Homo sapiens: one gene and its partner. The protein of the gene in region 2 interacts with the protein of the main gene of each other region in a biochemical or structural test. Each region holds a gene or a part of one and is shown on either strand. Other genes may lie near its edges.

The links. Proteins that work in one complex are often made in the same cells at the same time.
Region 1: the proteins of MAGI1 (region 2) and MTNR1A interact in a test that uses a peptide from one of them, tested with the Homo sapiens proteins (one large-scale study listed by IntAct).

Annotation. Positions count from the first base shown.
Region 1 is NC_000004.12:186,535,862-186,539,443, forward strand, and holds part of MTNR1A (melatonin receptor type 1A), read right to left. Parts: intron 2,851-3,582; exon of another isoform or gene 2,384-2,850; intron 1-2,383.
Region 2 is NC_000003.12:65,425,202-65,430,453, forward strand, and holds part of MAGI1 (membrane-associated guanylate kinase, WW and PDZ domain-containing protein 1), read right to left. Parts: intron 4,940-5,252; coding exon 4,319-4,939; intron 1-4,318. UniProt on the Homo sapiens protein: Plays a role in coupling actin fibers to cell junctions in endothelial cells, via its interaction with AMOTL2 and CDH5. May regulate acid-induced ASIC3 currents by modulating its expression at the cell surface.

The sequences.
Region 1 (3,582 bases), on a different chromosome or scaffold from region 2:
GAAATGCCAGAAGCCTTTGCTCATTTGCCCACCTAGTGGTAAGAGCTTCCTCCTTTGAAGGGTCTTAAAGCACTTTATACTGCTTTTTACTCAGATTAAATTATAATAAATTCAATTCAGTTTACATATTAAATGCATATATTTGGTGCAGGGGGAAACAGGAATTGAGAGACAGGAAAAGTCAAAAAGATTACACTAGAGTGGTTGGGCGCAGTGGCTCACACCTGTAATCCCAGCACTTTGGGAGGCCAAGGTGGGTGGATCAACTGAAGTCAGGAGTTCAGGACCAGCCTGGCCAACATGGTGACACCCCGTCTCTACTAAAAATACAAAAATTCGCTGGGCGTGGTGGCGGGCACCTGTAATCCCAACTACTTGGAAGGCTGAGCCAGGAGAATTGCTTGAACCTGGGAGGCAGAGGTTGCAGTGAGCAGAGATCGCGCCATTGCACTCCAGCCTGGGTGACAAGAGCAAAACTCCGTATCAAAAAAAAAAAAGAAAAAAAAGAAAAAGAAAATTACACTAGAGTAAGCAGCAGCACCAGAGCACGCACAGACCAGAAGCTGTGAGGAAAGGGGTGCGCTGGACAGGGACAGAGGGAGCCCCAGGTGGACGGACAGAAGATTTCGCCTTCTATTCTATTGACCTGTAGGCCAGGCTTCCCTGCGTCTCCAGATGGTGGCCCTCGTGAGTACATTTCCTCATATTTGCGTCCTAGACCACACCCAATAAATACAGTGACTTTTGCTCATACACTCAATGAGTTCATTAAACTGTCACTTCCCAATATTTGAAATGAGACAGCCCATAGCAGTCAAGATGAGAGAAAGGCAAAATTTGTGCCATTTATTTAGGAATTTCAGATAAATTGTCATAAAAGCAAATACTTTAAAAATTGGTTGTATTCATCCAAATTAAAGTTACAAAGGCAAATTTATTTTCCCACAGATCACTTTCAATTAGCGTTGAAACATTTAAATTCCTAAGAGGTGTATTTTAATAAATTATTTAGCTCAAAATGTTTAATGCTTTAAAAGCATCTATAATATGTGAAATTCTGTTCCAAATCAAACTGTCATTGTAACAGCACATTTGTTCCCAGAGTGTCATGATGACAAACTGGCCTAATATGGATTTATTTTTAAAAGAGCTTAAAAATGAAATCACAAATGATGTCATAAATTTCTTTCATGGCTCGAATACCCTGCTTCATTTATTTTATAGTAATTATGTTGCATTACAATTCAAGCAATTACATTAATTAGATCATTGATTCTTTGAATTAATCCCATTTTACAAATCTTGGTGAAAATTAATTAAGCCACAGACTCCCCACAGGTGCGGCTGTCAGGTAGCTCACATAAAGCTTTAGCACCAGTGTTCATGTGTGCCTGGGGGGTGTGTGGTGTCTGGGCGGAGAAGGAAAAAGGGAATTTCCTTTTTTCTTTTATGAACTTCACCAGATAAGAGTCATTAAATCATCTAATTATAATTATACACATTATAAGTTCATCTATTCCATTCTCAAATCTATGTAACTCCAGACATATGGACAATCTACCCATTTTTACAGATATCCAGGACTGTATGCAACAAGCTTAATAATGCATTCTGAAATGTAAAATAATGTCTGTTCATGGGTAAGAATTTCTTCTCTGTTGAATATAGTTCCAATCCTTACTGTGGCAGAATCATAGAATCATAGGATGTTAAAATTGAGAGATGGGTTAATGATCTCCCTGGATAATTCCTACTTTTTAAAGATGAGAAAACAAAAATATAGAGTTAAATTGGATGAAGTCGTACGACTACTTAGTGAAAGAGTCAGGATTATACCAATGCTATGAACTGGTGAGTGTTGTTCAATGTTATTTCCCTGAGAAAGCTCCTGTGCTCCTACAGATACGAGACTCAGAAACTGGGCCCTGTGGCTACGTCCTGGCTTACAGCCTCTCCAGGCACAATTCTGAAGAAGCGTATTTGAACTAGAACATTCTAAAGAGAAGATGGGGGAGGAAAACACCTAAGTCAGTATGCTGGCAACAAGACGAACAGCGATCAGCCTTGTGGTGATTAAAGGCACCAACTATAAAATGCACAGTCAATATTTGTTCCCAGGAATAAAACCTTAAAGTGGAAGTGAAATATGGCACAGATATGAATAAAATAAGGTAACAGACAACTAAAATGTCAGCTTGCTGGGAGTACCTTCCTCAGAACTAGTCCTGTGAGTCCCTTCTGGGAATGACACAGCAGCACGACGTTGCTTTTCTGTTTATCGCGATTATGTCTCTACTTCTCCCCATCTCCCACAGCCCCAGCTATCACCTCGGTGAGGACACTGCCTGTCTTAGATATCTTCTCCCTCCACCTTGAACAGTACCTGGCCGAGGGTTAATCGATGCACAGTGGGTTTATATTGTGTCAACTTCGCGAAGCTGAAAAGACTTTTCCTTGCACCGCTCCGGGTTAGTGTTCCCCACAAGAGGCAATTGCGTGAGATTTTGAAGGCGGAAGTGCAGCAGTAGCTTGCTCTCTGCCCTCAGTATGTCTGTGTCAAGTGCCAGACGCCACCACAAGCTCGGCACTCCGAGTCTCATCTGCTGCCCTGCAGGGGGTGGGTGACGGCAGTGTGCTCACAGCTTCTCCAGCTCCTGCTCACCTCCTCCTGGCTTGAGATTCGACCATCCTCCAGAGCTCCAGTCCCTCCTCCCAGGTTCTAGCTTCCCCTGCGTCCCCTCCTAACATCCAGCTTTCCTTCTTAAATCCGTGGACTTTAGACAGCAGCACCAGACACAGAAGCGAAAACCTCAAATACGCTATTTAATCAGCTCACACAACTGCTCTAGCAATTTTACTTCTTGGATTGATTGAACCCAGACTGATACAGAATTTGGTTCTGGAAGTGGACCAAGGAGAACCTTCAGGATGGTTTCTCTGTATTGGTTTTGGGTTACCTGCAGTCGATTCTGTAATAGGACTAGCTTTAAAGTATTAGAAATCCTATTTCCAGTAGTTAAGGGACACTGGTAGTCACGGCCTGCAGGGGCAAAAGAATTCCTTAAAAGACCACCTGGGCTGGGTGTGGCAGCTCACGCCTGTAATCCCAGCACTTTGGGAGGCCGAGGCGGGGGATCACGAGGTCACGAGATCAAGACCATCCTGGCCAACATGGTGAAACCCCATCTCTACTAAAAATACAAAAATTAGCTGGGCGTGGTGGTGCGCACCTGTAGTCCCAGCTACTAGGGAGGCTGAGGCAGGAGAATCGCTTGAACCCAGAAGGCGAAGGTTGCAGTGAGCTGAGATCGTGCCACTGCACTCCAGCCTGGCAACAGAGCAAGACTCCATTAAAAAAAAAAAAAAAAAAAAAGGCCACCTGTATTCACCTTCCAAGGTGAAAACAATGTCATTGCATCACCCTCCAACCACTAAGATGAAAAACAAAATATACCAACCATACAAAGGGTTGGACGTATTAAACCAACCCATTTCCTGAGTGACTCAAAAAGCTGTCAGTGTTGACTGGAGCCCAGAACAAGGCCCTGAAGGCTGCTCAGCCACCTGATCCATCTGATCCAA
Region 2 (5,252 bases):
AAAATATTAATGCTTCCCCACCCAATTGCCACTATTGCTTTATCATGTGATGACTACTACGTCAGGAATTGGCACAAATGCTACCTTATTTAATCTATGTACATCATGCCCATTTTTTTCAGAAGTCTAACTAAGCTCAGAGAAGGCAAGTGACTTGCCTAAAGTCACAATGCAAGTAGAGCAGAAGCCAGGATTTAAACTTGCATCCTCTGTCTCCACAGTCCTGTGGTCTTTCCTCTATACAACAATAAGGTCATCCCTTGCATAAAATTTGAGCCAGAATGGAGTGCCTGAAAGATTCTCTAGCTCAAAACATTCATCTTTTAGATTAAAAAAATAAGTGTCAGGGTAGAAGTAGTACCCTTCTGAAGCATATGCAGAAGCTTACGGGCAGAGTTTGTACTCAAGGTCAGCTCCTGGTATCCCAAGTTCAGTTTTCTTTTTAATACATGCCTTCTCTCAAAAGTAAAACATAGGATCTTCACTTGCATACAGTGCTGCCAAATCTTTTCTTGAAACGGAGTGTTGTGACTCAACATGAAATTACATTTTAAAGAGTGTCACACCTACTGATAGGTGTGAATTTGCCGAATATCCAAAATATTTGACACAGAGGGGCACAGGTAGTTACGCTATCTACATGAGCCTTTTTTAAAAAAAGTAAAAAATCCTTATGGGACAAGTTCGATAGCTTTTACAAATTAAAAATAAAAATCCACAAACTAGTTTGATTTTCCAAACACTTCAAAGAAGTCTCTAGATGCACACTGATGTCAGGTGACAGGATTTCTGAATGCAGATGCTATGTTCAAAATAGAAGGGTAAAAAGCACTTTCCTGACTGGACAGCAGAGGGAGAAGGAGTAAGGACACACAATTGGAAGAGGGGAGCCAGACACAGAGAAGAACTGCCCTTTAAAAACCTGAGTGATCGACTGGCAAGCAGGGAGATGTTGATGAAGAGGAGATTTGTAAGCAAATCAGGACTGGTCCCGGCTACTTGGGAGTATGGATGAACACTGCACAGCAGCTCTAAGCCTGACTCAGGAAACTGTCTGACCCTGGACATTTACAAATGATATTTCAACCTTCAGCTCGATTTCCAGATGAGGGAAGGGGGATGGACTAAAACTACTAAAAATGAAATGTATTAGATCTTGACAAGAACAAATGTCAAAAACGAGCTCTAGAGATGAGGAATTAAAATGGGTGCTACAAACATAGCAGCCAGTTCTGTCCCAAAGTAAAAATGGCCCGTTCTTTAAAGCATAGAAAGCCACAACCTCACGACAGGAATTCCTGAGACTCATGGAACAGTGTAGATGAGTTTATCAGTCATCTTACTAGCAGTTACAAAATAAACTAGATTCATTAGAAAGAATCGGTAAAGTGGGCATTTACTTTCTCATTGAACCTAGCTGTTGTCTTGAAGCACCTTCATCAAGCCTTCTCATTACATCCCCACTATACAGAAGAGATGATTAAATGTCAGCCCTGATTCAAGCAACTAATGTATGGCAGAAACAGATATATTTATATGCCTTCCAGAAAGATTAATAGTATCTAGTGCTAGCCTGCCAACTGCAGATGTACAAACTTTCTATCCTATACATAAATCATACACAAGACATATGGTGTATTTTAAAGACTGCTGATGTCACAGTGATTTTAAATTACTCATGTTCTGAAATAAACCATGTAGATGTTGATGAATATGGCAATATATTCCGGATTTTTCATATAAATGTTATAAAATGTAACACCATTAATGAGAAGATGGCATTGGGAATTAAGAAGAGAGAATGCAAACATATTTAAAATCAAGGAGTATAGTCAGGTGTGGTGGCTCATGCCTGTAATCCTAGCACTTCGGGAGGCCGAGGCAGGTGGATCCCTTGAGCGCGGGAGTTCGAGACCAGCATGGGTAACATGGAGAAATCATTTCTACTGAAAATACAAAAATCAGCCGGGAGTGGTGGCATGCACCTATAGTCTCAGCTACTTGGGGGGCTAAGGCAGGAAGATCGCTTGAAACTAGGAGGTTGAGGCTGCAGTGAGCTGAGATGGCACCACTGCACTCCAGCCTGGGTGACAAAGTGAGACCCTGTCTCAAAAATAAAAATAAAAAATAAAATCAAGGAGTACGTTTCTATAATCAGTTGTTTGCTGGCTTAGGCGAATTCATTACAATATGGTTCTAATACATGTGTAAGTTAGTTGGCTATAATGAAACTTTATGTTTGGTCTCCTTAGAAGTGAATCTAATGGGATAATAAACCACATCAATAACAGAAATGAGAAAGAGGATAGATGAGTTAGGAGAACAAGGTGGTTTGTGTCTGTCAAATGAGCAGTGGCTGAATCAGAGGTGCACCTGATGTACCAAGAATTATTTGAAAGTTTCCAGGCTGTCAGCCTCAGTATTAAGCAACTATACAAAAATCAGTGTTATTCAGTTAAGTAGGGCAGAACATTGGACTGGAAACCACAGAGCCAGGGTGAACAGCTCAGAACTACTGTGGGGTGGCACCTTCCTACCTCACAGGGAAGTGACAAATATCAGTGGAGAGGCACGTGCAGGTATGAAAGTGCTTTGTGTATCACTGATTCTTCTATAAGTGCCAGGTTTCATCATCACCATCATCATTATTGTCATAATCGTTCTTATACCCAAGTCATTTCCTACTACATACATCTTGGCTACTGTTTAAAACCAGTTCTCTGAGCAGTCAAGTGATCTAGGTACAAGAAGAGACTTGAAAATTAGTTGGTGGAAATGACATTTTAAAAAAAATAAAATTTGCACAATGCCTTTTATAACTGCCTAAGCCAGGCTCATTGAGCATTTCAATTCACATAGACAGCTACTCTGTATTTTGGGTTTCCTTCAAATGACCCCAGCCATTCTGATCGCAGAACACACAGGTTCATGAAAACATGAGAATCTGGCTGCTGTGACACAAATGAGCTCTCCTGTTGCAACAAACCAAAAGGAAGTCAAAGTCTGGTTCTTGATCTCTTTTCAAAAGGCCTGAATATGTTGTTCATGAAACAAATCATGGTAGCAAGGATCAGGGAAACAGCCATTCTCAGGCCCACTGTGTAAAACTATCAGTCACGACTAATCACATATAAGTATATATTCCAGGAGCAAGACACTTCAATATGGTGGAAAGTATTGCTCAGTGTGACGTCCTGTGTTTTCTGGTGAGGCAGAGGGTGGGATACGGACTCAAGGAGAAAGGAGGAAGCTTAATGCCTCGAGATTTAGAATAACCCAGATCTCTGAGATCCTAAACTACTAAACGCGAGCATGTGGAGGGAAGTGTTTAATATGATTAGCAGACCTCTTGTTTCTGCCAAATAGAAATAATCACATACCTATTCACTTAATACCTATTCATTCATAAATACCTAAAAGGAGTCAGGTGTTGTGTTAAATGCTGGGGATAACAGCTGTCCACATGCACACATGGGCCCTGGCTTTATGGAGCTTTATATTCTAATGAAAGACAAATAATGAAAAATAAATAAAAGCATGAAATAACGTCTTGTGCTAAAAAGGTGATGATGATCAAGGTTATGAAAAACTGTGATAAAGATTATATGGAAGTGTTGGGAGCTACTTTAGATAAAGTGATGGGAGAAGCCCTCTCTCATAAGGAGACCTGAATGGGACTGAGCCAGCTGGGAAGAGCTGGGAAAGGACCATTCCAGGCAGAACGGACAGTAAATACAAAGGGCCTGAGGCAAGAAAAGGCTTGAAGCATTAAAGGAGCTCCATAAAAGCAGCCAGTGTGGCTAAAGCACCATCAGATGGAGGAGAGGAACATGAGACAAGTTTGGAGTGACCATAGCCACATTTTGCAGGCTATGCAGGCCAAGTTCAGGAGATTTAAAGGATAAAGGTTATTATTTTTTATATATATATAAAAAAACTTTTTAGAGAATGGGGTCTCAATATGTTGCCCAGTCTGGACTCAAATGCCTGGGCTCAAGTGATCTTCCTGCCTCAGCCTCTCAAGCAGCCAGGACTACAGGTGGGTACCACCACACCCAACTTAGGTTTTTAAATCTTAACATTTTAAAAAGGCAAAATCTGATTTCTGTTTTAAGGTATCATTCTAACTGCATATGTCTGTCATAATGTATAAACCACAATTTTTATGCTAAAGAGGTTAGTATTTGGAGAAATCAGTAGGCATTTTGAAACATTTAAATAAATTTAAAAAGCCCCCAGTGGTCATCTGAAGATGAGTAAGTTAAGCAATGAATTTGGGATAAAAAAAAAATTCAAAGAACAAAACAACCCTACTTACCTCCTCGTTGCACCAACAATGTGACCTCACTTCCCTTAGGACACTCAACCAGCATATCCACCACTTGGTTGTGAGTTAGGGCCTGCACGTTCTTCTTATTAACTTCCACTATGAGATCCCCTTCTTTCAGGCCTCGGCACCTTGGGCTGTCAACAATCTGTTTCACTCTTTGGCCACCCCCACCAGGACTGTCTGCGATAGTAAAACCAAAGCCCATTGGCCCTTTGACAATATGAACAGTTATGAGTTCTGGCTGAGTGGCTATGGAGGAAGCCAAAGAAACAGTGTCATTAGGATAACCATGAGAACTATTTGAAGCCACGTCCGCTGGGCTGCTTGGCCTGGCATCCTTCATGCCATTGACTTTGCCTGTTTTACTACTGTGGCTAGCTGGTGAATCATAGGTCTCTTGCCCATTCACAATAATTGGTTCTTTATCCAAAATGGCTACCGAGGTCACTAAACTTGTATTGGGGTCATCTGGATCAAAAGGCAATGGATAACCTCGGCAGAGTTCAAGGTCCACGCTGGCACCAATGGGGATGGACTGGAAGATCTTCACAACTTGAGCATGTGTGTGTCCCAAAACACAGGTGTCATTCACACTTACAATCACATCCCCTGTAGAAGGCAAGAGTGTGGGGGTTAAGAAAACAGCACCCAGAAAATTGTCATCAGTATTATAATATCTCCCACTAACATAAAGCTGAACTGAAACTGCATGTGGGTGTGATACTATAGGGTATAAAGTGCTTCTATTACTGATTTTAACAGCTAATAAAGTGTTCTTTCAGCACCTAGTGTCTTCCCTGCTAATGAGAATGTAATAATCACTCACAGAACATTGGAGCTTTCTCCTAAAAAAAAATCTCACTGCAGAAATCCAAGTTTAGAATTCATTTATTTAAATGGGGATCTACAGTTTTAGTAACTC